Linked DNA regions of Homo sapiens: regions 2 and 3 are each reported to be linked to region 1. The links are microRNA targets in miRTarBase. Many come from high-throughput screens and were not tested one by one. Region 1 holds a microRNA gene; each other region holds the end of a gene's coding sequence.

What was found. Region 1 holds the annotated microRNA hsa-miR-937-5p (GUGAGUCAGGGUGGGGCUGG, at 1,298-1,317, shown strand). A microRNA usually pairs through its seed, bases 2 to 8, with sites in the 3' UTR of a target mRNA and lowers its output. Matches are read on the target gene's strand: a 7mer-m8 pairs with bases 2 to 8, a 7mer-A1 pairs with bases 2 to 7 and ends in A, and an 8mer does both.
Region 2: the mRNA of KNSTRN is a reported target of hsa-miR-937-5p. The part of its 3' UTR that is shown has no 7-base or 8-base seed match.
Region 3: miRTarBase lists NECAB3 as a target of hsa-miR-937-5p. The part of its 3' UTR that is shown has no 7-base or 8-base seed match.

The regions. Positions count from the first base shown.
Region 1 is chr8:143,811,327-143,814,326 of GRCh38, reverse strand. It overlaps MIR937 (microRNA 937), which reads left to right and starts at 1,285; the gene lies at 1,285-1,370. SCRIB (scribble planar cell polarity protein) reads left to right here. Exons shown (of 37, transcript NM_182706.5): 2 at 209-326; 3 at 431-509; 4 at 601-690; 5 at 801-857; 6 at 953-1,016; 7 at 1,223-1,297; 8 at 1,366-1,510; 9 at 1,943-2,061; 10 at 2,982-3,000. RefSeq lists an enhancer at 1-176.
Region 2 is chr15:40,393,067-40,396,407 of GRCh38, reverse strand. It overlaps KNSTRN (kinetochore localized astrin (SPAG5) binding protein), which reads right to left. Exons shown (of 9, transcript NM_033286.4): 9 at 2,120-2,939. The coding sequence ends at 2,811. Among named protein-coding and RNA genes, the nearest start is that of IVD, 11 kb to the left of the region's middle.
Region 3 is chr20:33,655,233-33,658,232 of GRCh38, forward strand. It overlaps NECAB3 (N-terminal EF-hand calcium binding protein 3), which reads right to left. Exons shown (of 12, transcript NM_031232.4): 11 at 2,710-2,801; 12 at 1,855-2,625. The coding sequence ends at 2,597. Among named protein-coding and RNA genes, the nearest start is that of C20orf144, 5.6 kb to the right of the region's middle. RefSeq lists an enhancer at 1,063-1,563.

The sequences.
Region 1 (3,000 bases):
AGAGGGAGGCAGCCACAGTGGGCGTGTGTACCGTGTGTTTCTTTCCTTTTTTTGCAAATGGGGTGTCGTGGTTAGACCCCAGGACCCGGTGTGACCTGGAGCAGACAGAGGCCTAGGGACTCTTGACTTGTGACACTCACGTGTCCAGGAGCTCTTCTCTGCTCTGCAGTGGTCTCTGCCACAGAGTCCGTGTCCTCCCTGCCCACAGCCTTTTTTCCGGCTGCTGAACTTGCGCAAGCTGGGCCTGAGCGACAACGAGATCCAGCGGTTGCCTCCCGAGGTGGCCAACTTCATGCAGCTGGTGGAGCTGGACGTGTCCCGGAACGGTGGGGAGCCTGGGCAGGGGCTGGGTGGGGTCTGGGGAGTGTCCGCTGGGGCTGCAGACGGCCTGCAGGCCATGGCATCTGTCCACTGTGACCCTCTGTGACAGATATCCCTGAGATCCCGGAGAGCATCAAGTTCTGCAAGGCTCTGGAGATCGCGGACTTCAGCGGGAACCCCCTCTCCAGGTGGGTGGCAGCCTGTGGTGGGGTCGGTAGGGGCTATGGGTCCCACAGCCCTGGACTGGTCATCCGAGGGCCTCTGCTTCCTCCCATCCAGGCTCCCTGATGGCTTCACTCAGCTGCGCAGCCTGGCTCACCTGGCCCTGAATGATGTGTCTCTGCAGGCACTGCCCGGGGACGTGGGCAAGTGAGTGCCTTCTCAGGTGGAACTAGGGTGGGGTGGGGGACCAGGATTGGCCCTGCCCCTGCTGCCACTGCTTTCCTTCCTCTTGCCCCAGCGCCTGGTCTCTCTTTCAGCCTCGCCAACCTGGTGACCCTGGAGCTCCGGGAGAACCTGCTCAAGTCCCTGCCAGCGTGAGTGTGACAGGCATTCTCCTAACAGCCAGGGCAGGGCCACAGCCCAGGGACCAGGGCTGCGTGGCCACACCTCCACCCTGCTTCCTCTGCAGGTCCCTGTCATTTCTGGTCAAGCTGGAACAGCTGGATCTGGGAGGCAACGATCTGGAAGTGCTGGTGCGTGGAGGCCTGACAGGGCAGAGACCGGAGGGCGGGCCACGGAAGCAAGGGCAAAGAAGGGGACAGCGAGCAGATCCGACAGCAAGGGGCACCTCGGGAGGGCAGGCGGGTGGGAGCTGGGTGTGGGGGCGTATAGTCTCTTGAGCACGGCGCAGCAGGAGGCTTTGCCTCATAGTCACTATTTTCTCTGTTCCTTCTTGCAGCCAGACACTCTGGGGGCTCTGCCCAATCTTCGGGAGCTGTGGCTTGACCGGAACCAGCTGTCAGCACTGCCCCCGGTGAGTCAGGGTGGGGCTGGCCCCCTGCTTCGTGCCCATCCGCGCTCTGACTCTCTGCCCACCTGCAGGAGCTCGGGAACCTGCGGCGCCTGGTGTGCCTGGACGTGTCGGAAAACCGGCTGGAGGAGCTGCCTGCTGAGCTCGGCGGGCTGGTGCTGCTCACTGACCTGCTGCTGTCCCAGAACCTGCTGCGGAGGCTGCCCGACGGCATCGGTTAGTGTGCCTGGGGGTGCCTGGGTGGGGCACACGGAGCCTGGCCCTGGGAGGAGCGTGGGGCGTCGGGGCTGTGTGTGGTGTGGAACACAGGGGAGGATCCTGAGTGTGCCCAGGCTCTGGGAGCTGTCCCTGGGGAGGGGAGGTGGGACCCTGGGGCAGCCCAGAAGGCTGAGGAGGCAGCTGGTGGTGCTGGAGGGGGCGGTGGAGTCTGTGAGGGCGGAAGGGTGGCAGTGCCACTGGGGCCTGGTGTTTTCTTGAAGGAGGTTGGGTCAGGCTTGTGGGGCAAGGTAGGTAGGGTCCTCCCGAAGTACGGCGGCGGCAGAAGGGGCTGGGGGCCTTGCTGTCTGCCTTGAGGGCGCTTCTGGCCAGGTGGGTAAGGCACGTCTGGGGACCATGCTCAGCCTTGTCCCCCTGTCTCCCCGACGCCAGGTCAGCTGAAGCAGCTATCCATCCTAAAGGTAGACCAGAATCGGCTGTGCGAGGTGACCGAGGCCATCGGGGACTGTGAGAACCTCTCTGAGCTGATCCTCACGGAGAACCTGCTGATGGTAGGGTCTGGCTTGGGAGGCAGAAAGGATGGGGCCGTCGGGGGTGCAGAACAAGGACAGGGCATCAGCCTGTGTCTGCTGCTGGGGGGTGCTGGTGGCAGCCTGACGTGGAGCCACTCAGGAAGGGCTCTTCTCTTGTCAGAGGGGGAGCATGCTGGCCGGAGGTGAGGCGGGGCAGTGAGGCCAGGGCAGGGGCCTTTGCCGTTTACCGTGAAGAATCTAGGTCTCGTGTTTATCGCTGTATGTTGTAACACTGGGGAGCGGTTACAGAAGAGGCAGGAATGGGAACTTATTTGTCTGTAGGGAAGACAGATGGAGAGCAGGCTGCTCCCCAGGGGCGTCTGCCTGCCCCTCACAAAGCAGGGCAAGCTGAGGCACCAGGCCACGGTTCGGGACGGTGGTGTTGCTATCCCCATCCCCAGGCTGGGAAACAGGAGCTAGCTGTGGGGAGGGTGTTCATGGGAGTTTCCGGGGGGGTTCCTCACTGGGGAGATGGAGAAAGGGACTCTGGGGTTCAGGGCCCTGGGAAGGGGCTGGCCCTGAGCAGGCAGGCTGGAACTGGGGGCCTGGGGAGCCCTAGGGATGACAGGGCAGACCAGTGGGGCACCAGACAGGCTCACAGGGCGCAGCCTCGCAGGTCAGTCCAGGGCACCCATGGGAGAGGGTCAGGGATGACCTGGTGGGGTGTTTTGGTGGTGGGGACTGAAGGCTGAGGGCAGTGGGCAGAGCTTGGGGAGCAGAGGGCACGAAGTGGGGTGGAGACAGCTTCTGTGGTCAGGTCCTTGTCCCGGTCTCCAGGGGCTGTGAGGGACCCTGGCTGGAGCTGGCCTGGGGTGTCTGTGCCCTCCTGCCAGGGGCTGTCATCTCCTTCCCACCCCCAGCAAGCCCCTAGCGTCCTCTGACCTCCTCTTCTTGGCCAGGCCCTGCCCCGCTCCCTGG
Region 2 (3,341 bases), not on the chromosome of region 1:
CATCACATTAGTGTTTCTGTGTACTTTGAAGCCAGATTGGCAGAGAAAGAAAAATGGTAAGGAAATAGCTTCTTGAGATATTTGGCTGTGAATATAGTATATGTGGTAGCTGGAGGGGATAAGGGTGGGGTTTTGGCTTTATGTTTTAAGATGGTTGCAATTTGAACTTAAGAGTCAAAGTTGAGAGTTCCCAAGTCAGAAGGAAGTTGAATAACTGAGGCCTGCAAAGGCATGGTAAGATCAGCGACTGTGTTTTGGGGTGGGGAGAAGGGGGCACTGGAATAGAAGTTTGGGGTGAATTTATGAAGGGAATCTTTTGCCAGGATAAGTTTTAAACTTTAATAATATCACCACCAGGATTTGAGTACCTTTGCCAGGCACTGGGTTAGGTACTGGACATAATTCTCTTTTATAACCACCCAGCAAGACAGGTATTATTGGTATGAACTTATTCATACTTTTTTCTTTTTTGAGACAGAGTCTTGTTCTGTCACCCAGGCTGGAGTGCAATGGTGCCATCTCGGCTCACCGCAACCTCCGCCTTCTGGGTTCAAGAGATTCTCCTGCCTCAGCCTCCCGAGTAGCTGGGACTACAAGTGTGTGCCACCACACCCAGCTAATTTTTGTATTTTTAGTAGAGACAGGGTTTCATCATGATGGTCAGGCTGATCTCTAACTCCTGACATCGTGATCCACCCACTTCAGCCTCCCGAAGTGTCAGGATTACAGGCATGAGCCACTGCACCCAGCCTGTTCATACCAGTTTTATTGGTATGAACTCAGTTTGAGAGAATTTGCCAAAGACCAGTTTTTAGTGGATAGGCTCAAAATATTTGAAACATAACCAACTTTGTGAATGTCTGTATGAGAAGGCAAACAATTTTGGCCCTTTAAGCTCAGGTTGGAGTGTTACTGGCTTCACTGAGTGTCTCTGGGCAGCCTTAAAGATGCTGAAGGGTGGGGGTGGGAGGGTTTGGAGAAGAAATTAGGAGGTGCAGAAAGAACAGGAGATGGCCAAAGTCAGCCTAGTTTGGTTAAGAAAAAAATTTGGCCATGCCTTTGGTAAACCGGGGGGAGGCCTGTCATGGACTTCAGGCCATGTACTAAAGGATCTATTGGACCAGGCCTAGGATTGGCTGTGCAAAGCAAACAGCAGGCAGATAATCATGCTTAAGAGTGCAGGGAGGGCTGGGCGTGGTGGCTCACGCCTGTAATCCCAGCATTTTGGGAGGCTGAGGTGGGTGGCTTACTTGAGGTCAGGGGTTAGAGGCCAGCCTGGCCAACTGGGCAAAACCCCACCCGACTCTACTAAAAATACAAAAATGGCAGGGTGTGGTGGCTCATGCCTGGCCTCAGCACTTTGGGAGGCTGAGGCGGGCGGATCACTTAAGGTCAGGAGTTGGCCAACATGGTGAAACCACGCCTCTACTAAAAATACAAAAATTAGCTGGGTGTGGTGGTGGGGGGTGGGGTGCCTGTAATCCCAGCTACTCAGGAGAATTGCTTGAACCCAGACAGCGGAGGTTGTGGTGAGCAGAGATCGCACCACTGTGCTGGGCGATAGAGTAAGCAAGACTCTGTCTCAAAAAAAAAAAAAAAAAAAAAGGCCGGGTGCAGTGGCTCACACCTGTAACCCCAGCACTTTGGGAGGTCGAGGCGGGCGGATCATGAGGTCAGTAGATCGAGACCATCCTGGCTAACATGGTGAAACCCTGTCTCTACTAAAAATACTAAAAATTAGCAAGGCGTGGTGACATGCCCCTGTAGTCCCAGCTACTTGGGAGGCTGAGGCAGGAGAACTGCTTAAACCTGGGAGGTGGAGGTTGCAGTGAGCCGAGATCACGCCACTGCACTCCAGCCTAGGCAACAGAGTGAGACTGTGTCTCAGAAAAAAAAAAAAAAAAAGAGTGCAGGGAAAACATGGGCAGCAAGTGGCCACAGACCTGGTGAAACCACTGCTACAAATGGGCAACACCCTCAGGAGACTAGCCAATGCTCTTGGGAGACAGAGGGACTAGCCACAGGACTCTTAAAGAGTAGCAGAAAAATATTCTAGATTAAGTCAGAATATCTTGGACTTGTTAACTAAATTAGTTCAATAATGATCAACTGACATATCTAGGTTAAAAGGCTATTTTCATTCCTCAATGTTACAGTCAGAATATTTACAGAAGTATTTATTTTAAAAGTAGACTTAAAAAAGAAAAGTAATTTAGATTAAAAGATCCAAGGTGTATTGTTTCATGTAGGTGTTACTGCTACCTATACTTTCACCCCATTTATTAAGCCCAAAACACTTCAAGCAACTTCAGGTTCATAAATTAATAAGGAGGTACAGAAGCCCAACCAGGATGGGAAAGAATGTGTTTCAGGTTAGAAGGGGACAGCATGGCTCCTCAATGATGTCTTGTATGGAACATTTGTGCTCCACTGTAATGAAGATTTTCTTCCTGAAAATCTGAATGTGACATTTTAGATCCTCTGGTTGTTGGTTTAGTCTCCCGATTGTAATGGTGTGCTGAAGTCAGGTGGTTGACTAGAAGGTCAATCCAAGCTCCTAGGCTCCCCTCTCTTGTAGGCCTCAATTATCCACCTGTGAGGCTCAGGAGGGCTGACCAACCTGAAGGTTGGGAAAACTTGCTTAAATGAGGAATTGCCATTTCAGCATAAACTGTCCTTAAGTCTACTGTAGAAATTGTTTTCATTCTGGAGATGGTGAGTCCCAGAAGATCATGGCCAAGATGATGTCCTAAGTAGCTTCCTCTGAGATTTTATGCCCAAGAGGGAGCCATCTGGCCACTTGCTTCTTCTTACATTTCTAATAGCTGCTCCATTTCCTTAAGGGCTGTTGTTAAATCATTTACTTGATTGTTACATAAGGTTTGCTGTTCTAGGAATCGGACTCTTTCCTCTTTCATCTCCAGCTTTACCTTTAAGGCCTGCATGGAAAGACATTCCAAAAGAAAACAACACATACACAAAACTCTTGACTAACAGGAAACACAATTCCCACATCAGAACATTATGCTCCTATTCCACTAAGGAAGACCACTGGAGTATCAACAGACTGTATCTTCTATTTTAGATTTTATTTCTATGCACTGGTTTTAGGAATTGTCCCTCTAGTAGTAGAGAGGGACTAGACTCCTGTATCTAAACTGGAACGATGAAATCCTCTACATTTGGTGCAATATCCCATGATTCATCCAAGCAATCTGAAACAGTCCAGACCAAAGAATCTGTGCTTACTACAGGTCTTCTCCTTGAGTTATCAAGTTTCCATAGAATGGATTACATATAGTTCTCAATTCCCAACTCTGAGCAACCTACTGTGTTACACA
Region 3 (3,000 bases), not on the chromosome of region 1:
GGACACAGCCTTTCTTATTAAAAATTGTAATAAAGAGGTGTCCACCTTCAGAACTGCACTGCAGGGCGAGGCAGGCAGGGTGCCCAGGGCACAAAAACTAAGGAGACGCCCACCACAGATAAGTCAGCCTGAGGGCTTGGGCATGTCTAAAGATGGCAGTGGGCTGGGCACAGTGGCTCATGCCTGTAATCCCGGCACTTTGGGAGGCCAAGGTGTGCAGATCACTTGGGGACAGCAGTTCAAGACCAGCCTGGCCAACATGGTGAAACCCCATCTCTACTAAAAATACAAAAAAAATTAGCCAGGTGTAGTTGTGTGTGCCTGTAATTCCAGCTACTGGGGAGGCTGAGGCAGGAGAATCGCTTGAATTCAGGAGGCAGAGGGTCAGTGAGCCAAGATCGCACCACTGCACTCCAGGCTGGGCGACAGAGCAACTCCGTCTCAAAAAATAACAATAATAAATAAAGATGGCAGAGGGAAGTTTTTTTAGTTTTGAGGATTTGTTGCTACAGTTTTTGTGGAGGACAAAAGAAGCCTTTACAACACAGGACGTAAAGCAGGGCGATGTCCTCCTCAGCTGTCTTCTCTAACAAGACACACTGCCCAGCCTGGGCAACATGGCGAAACCCCCATCTCTACAAAAATTAGCTGGGCGTGGTAGTGTGCGCCTGTAGTCCTTGGCTCACTGCAACCTCCGCCTCCTGGGCTCAAGCGATTCTCCTGCCTCAGCCTCCCAAGTAGCTGGAATTACAGGCACACACAACTACACCCGAACAAGCCTCAAGCCTGCTCAGAGCCCCATGTGGTTCAGATGGTGGCAGCACTTTCTAGGAGCTCCCAGAGATCTGGGAAGCGGGGTGGCGGGAGGACGGCCTGGCACTGGACTGGCCAGGGTGCCAGCAGGGACCTCTGTGCAGGTGGCCCAGGGAGCCAGGCTGGTGGAAGAAACTGTCTCCCACAGGGGCTGCCAGGGAGAAACCGCAGGGAAGACCCTGCCTGGAGTCCCAGATGGGAATGCCCACCCTGAACTGGTGCCATCTGAGTTGCCTTGTAGCCAGGCCTCAGCCCAGTAAGGACCTGGCAACACCAGGGCGTTCAGGAACATGGAAAGGGCACTCAACCCACCGGCCACCCCCTCACCCCGAATTAAAGCCTCCCATGGCCTCCTTGGGATGTAGCACCTCAGAGGCCCAGCCTCACCCAGCCCTCTCCCCCTGGCACCCCCAGCTCAGCCCCGCTACTGGGTCACCCTTGGTTCAACCAGGCAAGCCCTCCTTCTCCTCAGAGCCCATGTGCCGTCTCCTCTGTCTGGAAAACTGACGCCAACACTCCCAGGCCAGGTCAAATGCCATCCTGTGCTTCTGTGGTGCCAGGGGCCTCCTCTTCAGAGCAGCTGCTTAGATGTCCCTCTTGGTCACCTCCCCTCCATGCCCCCAGTAATGGAGGGGGGCAGGAGGACACCCCCAGGGGCTAGTAGGACTGACTCAGCCATTGTCCAACTGGAACCACTCTATGTGGGGTGGCAGTGACAAGTCCAGCTTGGTGAGGACAGGTCTTCCCACAGGAGCGATCTGGGCCCAGAGGAGGCTCTGTGTGGGTGAAGCCAGAACCCCTATAAAACCTGCAGAGACACGTCACCCCCTCCCTCAGGCAGGACCCAGCACCAGGGTGTGTCAGGGCCAGGGACCCTGAAGTGGGAAAACTTGCGTCAGCTCTTGTGAGCATCCACTCTGCGAGCGTGAGGGCACAAGGTGGGAACCCGGGGGCTTCCCAAGAGAGGTGCCCTGCCTGGAGCTTCTGGCCTGGGAGGCGCACAGGCCCCACAGCCCAGACCTGCGAGACAGGAGGCAACACTGGAAGGGACCACTGCCTTTATTGCCTCTGTGCTGGGGTCCCAGCCTGGGGTTCAGAGGCCTCTGGGGGCAATAGGTGACCCTGGACCCAAATTATTGCTACTTGGCCAGGTCACCTTGGGGCTTCCCATACTGCCCTGAGAATGGGTGGGATGAGGGCATGCAAACGATATGCAAATGACATGCAAACCAACCCAGAGGCCTCTGGCACATCCATGGGTGCTGGAAGAGTCAGAGCCTAGTGGCCTGGGAGGGCGACGGGGCACCCAGCTCAGGCCCAGCCTCGGAGGCAAGGTTTGAGGGTTGGGGGGTCCCTGAGCATCAGCCCTGCTTCTGCCGCTGGCTGAGGAGGAGCAGAAGCCTGGTCCCAAGACAGCAGGAAGAAAGCAGGACCCTCGCTAGGCGGCCAGATGGCCTGAGGCCCACCCAGACAGGGACGGGACCTGCCCTGGGTCGCTCAGCCAGGCAGGGACAGCAGGGACCAGAATCCAGGTCTCCTGAGCCAGGCAGAAGCCAAAGTAGCTTGGAGGCTGAAGTGACAAACAATAAAATACAGGGATAAATAAATCAATAATAAATAGAAAGCAAGCAGCCCAGTCCCTGATCCCTGGGCTGAGAGCCCTTCCACCAGGCCCAAGTCCAGGAGGAGACAAGTCCTGGTCTTTGCGCTGGGCTGGCCAGTCCAGAAGGCTCCAGAGGGAGGCAGGCAGGGTCCCGGGGCCCTCGGCGTGTGCAGGTCTGGCTCAGTTGTTATTCATTATCCACCAGGAGGCTGGGGGTCAGAGGCAGGGGGTCAGGAGCCCTCAGGAGCCCACTGCCCCTCCAGGGCCACAGTGAGTGGGGGTCCACCGCATACCTGGGAAGAACACAGTGGTGAGGGTGTCCGGGGCCCGCAGGTGGTCGATGAGGATGCGCTGGAAGGCCTTGCTGCCAGGCGACTGCTGGTGCCTGCAGAGACCCAGGCTACAGTGACCTCGCTCTCCCCACTCCCGCCCCATCCTGCTGCCAGGATCAGACCCCGGCCCTTCTCACACTGCCTCTGGAGCCTCAGTCCTCTCCCCTGTGACACGGGGAAGCTGTGTGGGTGGAATGAAGGGCACTGCACACGGTGCTTGGCATAGGCATTGTCACATACATGGTGACAAGT